2 separate regions of the Homo sapiens genome follow, and region 1 is reported to be linked to region 2. The links are microRNA targets in miRTarBase. Many come from high-throughput screens and were not tested one by one. Region 2 holds a microRNA gene; the other region holds the end of a gene's coding sequence.

Region 1 (4,340 bases), not on the chromosome of region 2:
GTGTTGGCACTGCACATTGATGCCATTCTTAGGACTTTCTGGGAGAAAAATGTCCCGAAGGCCTTTCTTCGCCACCGCCCCCCACTCCCATTTCCACCCATTAGGGGCCATGCCTCCTAGAACCGGAGTGGCATCTATAAAGGCCCTGGCCCCCAGCGCGACAGGGTGGACGCGCCCCAATACAAACCCTTCGTGGGTGGCCGCGAGCGCCTCCGCTGGGAAGCCCTGGGCGGGCACCGGCCCACAGGTCCCGCCCGTGGGTGTGCGAGCGCGTCGGTGCCTCCCGCCTCCCCGGGCTCTCTCCACGCGGACGCGGTGATCGCCCCACCTCCGCCCGGCCCGCCCGCCACGGCCATTACCCTGCCCGCGACACCTGCGCCTGAGACCCGGCGGGAGGAGCGGGCGGAGAAGCCACCGGCCGGACTCGTGGGGTCCGCCCTGGCTTGCAGGCGTCTGATCCCCACTCCCCGACCCTCCCGCAGGGAGCGAGTTCTCCGGCAACCCGTACAGCCACCCCCAGTACACGGCCTACAACGAGGCTTGGAGATTCAGCAACCCCGCCTTACTAAGTGAGTACGCCACCTGGCTGGCCGGCGGCTCAGCGCGGCCGCGCGGCTTCTGGGCACGGTCCCACTCCCGGCGACCCGACCTCTGGGGACCCGGCCGGGCCAGGGGGACAGGCTTGTTAGTGCAGCACTGAGGCCCGGGGACCCCTCGAGGACGCCCGCACCTCCTGCCCTCCCGTGCCCTCCCTGGTCGCTCGAAGGCTCTGCGCCGCCCTCGCCCTCGGATCCCCTGGAGGGTGCGCAGCCGGGCGTCACCAGATCGGGTCCCTCTCATGCCCCGTGAACGCAACTATTCTCCGGGGCAACTGGCTCCACTGCCCAGCCAAGGTCTCCCAGTCCGGATCCCGCTGGACCCCAGCCAGGGGAGGTCTTTTCTGTGCTTTTCTTTCCTTTTTTGTTCTCCTGTTTGTCCTCTCACCCAGCCCATTCTTCTCCTGTGTTAACTTCCAGGTTCCCCTTATTATTATAGTGCCGCCCCCCGGGGCTCCGCCCCTGCCGCTGCTGCCGCTGCCTATGACCGCCACTAGTTACCGCGGGGACCACATCAAGCTTCAGGCCGACAGCTTCGGCCTCCACATCGTCCCCGTCTGACCCCACCCCGGAGGGAGGGAGGACCGACGCGACGCGATGCCTCCCGGCCACCGCCCCAGCCTCACCCCATCCCACGACCCCCGCAACCCTTCACATCACCCCCCTCGAAGGTCGGACAGGACGGGTGGAGCCGTGGGCGGGACCCTCAGGCCCGGGCCCGCCGCCCCCAGCCCCGCCTGCCGCCCCTCCCCGCCTGCCTGGACTGCGCGGCGCCGTGAGGGGGATTCGGCCCAGCTCGTCCCGGCCTCCACCAAGCCAGCCCCGAAGCCCGCCAGCCACCCTGCCGGACTCGGGCGCGACCTGCTGGCGCGCGCCGGATGTTTCTGTGACACACAATCAGCGCGGACCGCAGCGCGGCCCAGCCCCGGGCACCCGCCTCGGACGCTCGGGCGCCAGGAGGCTTCGCTGGAGGGGCTGGGCCAAGGAGATTAAGAAGAAAACGACTTTCTGCAGGAGGAAGAGCCCGCTGCCGAATCCCTGGGAAAAATTCTTTTCCCCCAGTGCCAGCCGGACTGCCCTCGCCTTCCGGGTGTGCCCTGTCCCAGAAGATGGAATGGGGGTGTGGGGGTCCGGCTCTAGGAACGGGCTTTGGGGGCGTCAGGTCTTTCCAAGGTTGGGACCCAAGGATCGGGGGGCCCAGCAGCCCGCACCGATCGAGCCGGACTCTCGGCTCTTCACTGCTCCTCCTGGCCTGCCTAGTTCCCCAGGGCCCGGCACCTCCTGCTGCGAGACCCGGCTCTCAGCCCTGCCTTGCCCCTACCTCAGCGTCTCTTCCACCTGCTGGCCTCCCAGTTTCCCCTCCTGCCAGTCCTTCGCCTGTCCCTTGACGCCCTGCATCCTCCTCCCTGACTCGCAGCCCCATCGGACGCTCTCCCGGGACCGCCGCAGGACCAGTTTCCATAGACTGCGGACTGGGGTCTTCCTCCAGCAGTTACTTGATGCCCCCTCCCCCGACACAGACTCTCAATCTGCCGGTGGTAAGAACCGGTTCTGAGCTGGCGTCTGAGCTGCTGCGGGGTGGAAGTGGGGGGCTGCCCACTCCACTCCTCCCATCCCCTCCCAGCCTCCTCCTCCGGCAGGAACTGAACAGAACCACAAAAAGTCTACATTTATTTAATATGATGGTCTTTGCAAAAAGGAACAAAACAACACAAAAGCCCACCAGGCTGCTGCTTTGTGGAAAGACGGTGTGTGTCGTGTGAAGGCGAAACCCGGTGTACATAACCCCTCCCCCTCCGCCCCGCCCCGCCCGGCCCCGTAGAGTCCCTGTCGCCCGCCGGCCCTGCCTGTAGATACGCCCCGCTGTCTGTGCTGTGAGAGTCGCCGCTCGCTGGGGGGGAAGGGGGGGACACAGCTACACGCCCATTAAAGCACAGCACGTCCTGGGGGAGGGGGGCATTTTTTATGTTACAAAAAAAAATTACGAAAGAAAAGAAATCTCTATGCAAAATGACGAACATGGTCCTGTGGACTCCTCTGGCCTGTTTTGTTGGCTCTTTCTCTGTAATTCCGTGTTTTCGCTTTTTCCTCCCTGCCCCTCTCTCCCTCTGCCCCTCTCTCCTCTCCGCTTCTCTCCCCCTCTGTCTCTGTCTCTCTCCGTCTCTGTCGCTCTTGTCTGTCTGTCTCTGCTCTTTCCTCGGCCTCTCTCCCCAGACCTGGCCCGGCCGCCCTGTCTCCGCAGGCTAGATCCGAGGTGGCAGCTCCAGCCCCCGGGCTCGCCCCCTCGCGGGCGTGCCCCGCGCGCCCCGGGCGGCCGAAGGCCGGGCCGCCCCGTCCCGCCCCGTAGTTGCTCTTTCGGTAGTGGCGATGCGCCCTGCATGTCTCCTCACCCGTGGATCGTGACGACTCGAAATAACAGAAACAAAGTCAATAAAGTGAAAATAAATAAAAATCCTTGAACAAATCCGAAAAGGCTTGGAGTCCTCGCCCAGATCTCTCTCCCCTGCGAGCCCTTTTTATTTGAGAAGGAAAAAGAGAAAAGAGAATCGTTTAAGGGAACCCGGCGCCCAGCCAGGCTCCAGTGGCCCGAACGGGGCGGCGAGGGCGGCGAGGGCGCCGAGGTCCGGCCCATCCCAGTCCTGTGGGGCTGGCCGGGCAGAGACCCCGGACCCAGGCCCAGGCCTAACCTGCTAAATGTCCCCGGACGGTTCTGGTCTCCTCGGCCACTTTCAGTGCGTCGGTTCGTTTTGATTCTTTTTCTTTTGTGCACATAAGAAATAAATAATAATAATAAATAAAGAATAAAATTTTGTATGTCACTCCCCATGGCTCCAAGTTTGTCTCTCCCTGTCTCTGAGATGGGCCTCCCCTCCATTGGTCGATCCCCAAAAGCCCCTTCAATGATCCTCCCAACTACACTCCCGCTGCCACCTCCAACTCCTTTGCCGAGACCCCCTTGGCGGCAGCTGAACCACGGCGAAGGCCGAGACTAGCCTGCCCTTTAGTAGCCACCCTCCCCCACGCACCCCGGCCCTGGGGACAGGAAGTTCTTACTCTCCGAAACTTCAGAATAACTCCTAGTTAGGCGCCTATACTAGGCCAACTCTGTGGTCCTACCAGTACACCCGCACCCAGATTTAGGGTGCTGGCTCTCAGAACCCGAAGTCTGAGGCCTTCTCCACGTGGGTGGAGGGGTGGTCGTCTGTCCTATCTCCTCCCTCCGTTCCCTATCCAGTGCAGTTGCGCGTGGGCGCAGCAGCAATTTTATCCCCGAAGTCTGCAATGAAACGCGAAGACCGCAGACGCTTGCCGCAAGTTTCCTCGCTCTGCGTTTACTTCTGGGCCCGAAGAATGCCCCGCAGAGGCCCTAGGAGCTGGTTCATGGGACTTCACGCGCCTCCAGTGTCTTGCGGAGCCCCAGCCCCAGCAAGCAGCGGCTGAAATTGGTGCGCCTTGTGCTGTGGTCTGGGTGTGTCCCGGAGAGGGCGCGCAGGCGCCTATGTCTGTCGCGGGGCGGTCGGCGGGTTCCTGCATAGGTATGGCTTTCTGTTCATCTATGTGTTCGTCTGTATGTCCCTGGATGGGTCTGGGGGTGTGGTAGTAGGAGAATTGTTTTTTTAGCCATCCTTGCTGTTCTTGTGTCCAGGTGTCCAGTGAAAGATCTGTATGTCTCCACCTCTCTGTTCTCTGTTTAGGAGAGGTTGCAGGGGGAAGGGGGATGTGGTGACTGTCCAGGATTGTTCT
Region 2 (4,373 bases):
TGCTAACCTACCTTATTACCTTTACTCCTAGCAATTTCCCTTCGTCTGACAGAAGCACACATTCTCATTATTTATACTCTTAAATTACAAGAGTAAATGTTGAGAGCCAGTACAAGTATTCAGTTATCTCAGGGACTCTGGTCTTTTCAGTCCAGGACTAATCAAGCAGAGAGTCATCAAAAGCTAAAACTAAAAAGCTTTTGTAGTGATTTTATCACCAGGGAAATCTGTTCATCCTTCAGAAGGATTGTTACCCGTAAAGAAGAAATAAAGGAGTTAAAATTGCTTCAGACCGTTGACTCCTTAGGTCCCTCTAGATTCATAGATTGAATTGGTTTCAAGGGGTGGGAGGAATTATGAGGGGAATTCCCTGAGAAAGCTTACAAATTGATCATAGCCTTAGTAACACTAGTAGGTGTAAGTGTGATCACTATGGAGGAAATGCCAAATGTGGCTGTAAGCTTGGGAAATGGTTACGAAAAGAGACAATTAACACCTTTTTTTTTTTTTTTGGCTTATTGTATTTGGGGGTGGGTGTTGCCACGTAGTATGCATCTGAGAATGGTCTTTCAAAATGAATTACAATTGATTTTAAAATGTCCTACCATTATAAGTGCAACTGTGTAGTTATTACTGAAGTGAAACTAGGGTTGCAAACACTATAGAATAGAGACACACATTTGATAACCCTATCCAGAAACTGGTCCTCCTAGATCTACCCGCAAATATCATTTAAAGCAGGTATGTCTGAGCATATGTAGAACTGCTCAGTTAGGTTTGGAAAATATAAATGCCTCCAAATTCAAAAGAATCCTTTAAGATTGTCATTTGAATAAATCAGTAAAAATATAATAATATCTAGATGTTATGTATTATAACACCTATTGATGCAAGCAGGCATATATATATAATTTTCCCCCAAGAATTCTATGAAGAATTGTCAAAATCCACCTAGCACTTTAGGATTTAACAAGATAAACCTACACTCATCCCTCCTTCCTATTGAGTAACAATGAATTTTGCCCAAAATGAGTAAGCAAATAAAATGACCTCATTTTTAGTCTGAGTTGGGGGATATGACTTTAATACTGGGTCTTAGTTTCAAATTCAAGTTCATGAGGCCAGTCTGCAGAGGAAAGGAGGATAGAGAGAATCCTTGGGAGGGCACTGATAAAGAGAGAGGGGTTCTCTAGTAGGGCCAGCTCCCACAGCTAAGTCAGGCACAGACTGTAGCTTTCTGCTCTCTGGCCGACAGCAGCCATAGCATCCTTATTGTTGTAACTCCTAGATTGTGATACTGTCACAAAACTGTTGCTAGGCAACAAATGTGGTTACCAGGTCTCAGCGAATAGCTGAAGGGGAAAGCAAAGTGTTGCACCATTGTAGAGTAACCATAGCAATGACCTACTATTACAGACTAAAGAATTATCATTAACAATGTTAAAGTATCAGACTGAGGCCCTGAATCCGGAGACTTCCAAGCGGTATCTCTCTGCATAATTGAGTGATCTAGGAAGAGATTTCAACTGTTTAAAAGCTATTCACTCATTATTTCTGTGGAAGTCTGTAATTATTTTAATTTTTAATTTTAAAAAGTGCTCATTTATGAAGCCACTGGTAAAATGCTACATAAGCCATCACAGGGAGTCAAAAATAGCTAAATGTATTTCCTCATCTGTTCTTATGCTTGCATCCGTGTTATCCGCTGCCTGTGTTAAACTGAAGGTCGATTTGATTTGAAAACATGCTGTACATTAGTATTACATCGAAACCACAGAGAGAAGCCGTAGTAAAATAAAGTAACCCCATAAATTGACAACTAACCTGCATTTTCTAAGTTGAATTCCTCCTGATAAAATGGGAGGCCTAGATGCTCTTTTAGTAGTCACGGCTTTGAAACCTTTTTTTTAGCTGTTCTAAATTTGCCCCTTAAAATCTGTAAAAATGTCGCCCGCCAGGACACTTCAAGGCGTAATCCCTTTTGAATGCGGTCCTTCATTAAGCGTCCCGTATGATTTGGTCTCAGTGACCTAGCTGAGGTAATTGTGTCTAACAGCACAGCTTCCGGGAGACGCAAGAAAAATCATTCCCCCTTCCCCTCCACACCACCCCCTTGGGAAGCAAGGAAACAGGCGCTGTGCGATCCCGCACGCAGGGGAAACCAATCCCCGCGCGCGCCGAGTCTCGGGAGTGGGTGGTTTCCCGGAGGGAGAGGGAGTGGCCCTTCCCGCCCAGCGCTTCCATTGGCCCGGAGAGGCGGAGGCCTCGGGCGGCCAGCCGCGCCTCGGACGACCCCGGGACAGATCCGGGCCGCGTCCCCGCGTTGGGAGAGGGATGGGGACTGAGGCCGGAGACGCCTAGACGCCGCGGATAGCGAAGTCTGAGTTCCTCTGAGCCAGGGGGCAAGTGACCCCGCAGCCCTAGTTGTGCCCTGGGAGTCGGCTGGCCCGCGCCCGCGAGGGGGCGGGGGTCCTGGCTGAGGGGCGGGGCGCGGGCGGCTGAGGCGGGGCGCAGGCGGGAGGGGCGGGGAGGGGCGGGACCGGGTGGTCGGGAGCCGGGGCTCGGCCTGGCCCTCGCCGCCCTCACCGCGCCTGGCCCCGCGTGGCCACCTGGTAACCGAATGTGTTGTTCTTTGCAGGCACCGACCGTCACGAGCTAACTTCCTGGAAGAGCTTTCCGTCTATTTTCAAATTCTTTACCGAAGCCTCAGAGGCCAAGACCAGCTCCCTGAAGCCGGCTGTGACGCGCCGCTCCCACCGCATCAAGCACGAAGAGCTGTAAGAGGAGCGAGCGCGACGGGGGAGGCCGCCCTGGCGCACCCACCCGCACGCCTCCTCACTGCTTGTGTCGAGCGGACTCCCAGCCCCTCATTAGATTGTTTTCTTCCCAGAGCCCAGGGTCGTGATATATACATCTAAATAGCGTTTTGCATTATTTCTAGATGAGTGCAACTGTCAAAGCAATATGGGTTCACTGGTCGTGCTTCCTGCGGGCTGAGCGCGGGCTGAGCGCTGCCAGTCAGCGCTCACATTAAGGCTGACAGCGCCCTGCCTGGCTCGGCCGGCGAAGCTCTAATTGCCCTGAAGGAGACCGCGCGGGCGCTGCGGGTCCGGCGGCGTCGGCGCGGTCCTAGCGCCCGCCGTAGCGGAGCCGCTGCTGCTTCCCCCTCCTTAATCATGTCCATCTTTCCCCGCTCTCAACTGGAGCAAACTTCTATTCCAGACTTCAGATTTCCATTTTCACTAGGTTTTTCCCTGAGGGCATCTTATTACCCACCTCTTTTTTTTTTTTTTTAAGGAAGTTCCACACACACTCCAAAGCCGATTTCAAATTCAGAACCTGAATGCCATGATGTACCATGTAGTTTGGGGAATGCAAATTGTTCTCTCCCTGTTTTCATTTCGGGACCAGAAAAAAAAACAACTCTGCATAAAAATCTATAAAGTACTGAATCCGCATTACTGCTGAAAATCCTTTTGCCAGCTAATTGTGAGAGTTTACACAAGTCTCTGATTTCAGAAGAGACTGTTAAAACCAAAACAATGATGGGCAGCTCTTTTAAGTGTAGGTGTGAAGGTCCCATTTTCAATGGAATTTCCAACTGTTATCACTGGGATTGACTTTACTTTTTAAACACATAATGTGTACTGTGTGGCATTGTAATTTAGATATAACACACTTAAGTTTTGCTTTTTAAATCTCTCTGTGGAGAAAGGTTGTTGTTAATCCTTTCCAGAATGATCTATTCTGAGCTTTCCTGGAGTTAGGCCCTTCTAGGGAGAGAATTTTTTTATTGTCATCAGGAAACGAAACCTTTGTGCTCTGCAGCCTTTTTCTTCTGAAAGGCTAAGTGGGGCTAAAATTATCCTTTTAGTTTTCTGCTTTAACAAGAAGAGAAGGACTTGGTGTGAAAGAATTTCTTCTCTCAGTCCAATGGTATAATTTTTAGCACTCCGCTTCCTCTGTAGGGTTTAGCCCTACAGTTTGAACAATTATTTTAATCCAGCTAAGATGTGGCCAACACTGTGAAATACAGGAGATGTTAAGGTTTTGCTGACTTTTAGATTAAAATCTTAAAATTTCACATTATATTTTAATTACTTGAAAAGTTTAATTACCTAGTAAAGATTGTTTCTAATAGATGAGAACATAAATTTAATAGTTTTCATCCTTTTTTAAAGTGTGTGCAACAATTAATATGCCTGCCTTATTTGAGGACATGATAAAATGTACCCAAAATGACTTCGAACTGTCTAATGCCTCAGAAAAGTAACTTAAAATCAACCACTTCGTGCTTAAATGTTTTTATATTATGAACCGATTTCAACAAGTTTTAAAGCTGTTAATATCTCATTGCTGTGTTTGACATACAA

What was found. The annotated mature microRNA hsa-miR-2277-5p reads AGCGCGGGCUGAGCGCUGCCAGUC and lies in region 2 at 2,997-3,020, shown strand. An mRNA with a match to its seed (bases 2 to 7 or 8) in the 3' UTR can be bound and repressed. Matches are read on the target gene's strand: a 7mer-m8 pairs with bases 2 to 8, a 7mer-A1 pairs with bases 2 to 7 and ends in A, and an 8mer does both.
Region 1: miRTarBase lists PAX2 as a target of hsa-miR-2277-5p. Seed matches in the 3' UTR shown: 7mer-m8 at 2,893-2,899.

The regions. Positions count from the first base shown.
Region 1 is chr10:100,826,527-100,830,866 of GRCh38, forward strand. It overlaps PAX2 (paired box 2), which reads left to right. Exons shown (of 10, transcript NM_000278.5): 9 at 483-569; 10 at 1,017-3,418. The coding sequence ends at 1,093. Among named protein-coding and RNA genes, the nearest start is that of PAX2, 83 kb to the left of the region's middle.
Region 2 is chr5:93,619,395-93,623,767 of GRCh38, reverse strand. It overlaps MIR2277 (microRNA 2277), which reads left to right and starts at 2,980; the gene lies at 2,980-3,072. ARB2A (ARB2 cotranscriptional regulator A) reads left to right here. Exons shown (of 11, transcript NM_032042.6): 11 at 2,639-4,373. The coding sequence ends at 2,781. LOC124901028 (a long non-coding RNA gene) reads right to left here and starts at 2,086. Exons shown (of 3, transcript XR_007058874.1): 1 at 1,825-2,086. RefSeq lists a silencer at 2,422-2,471.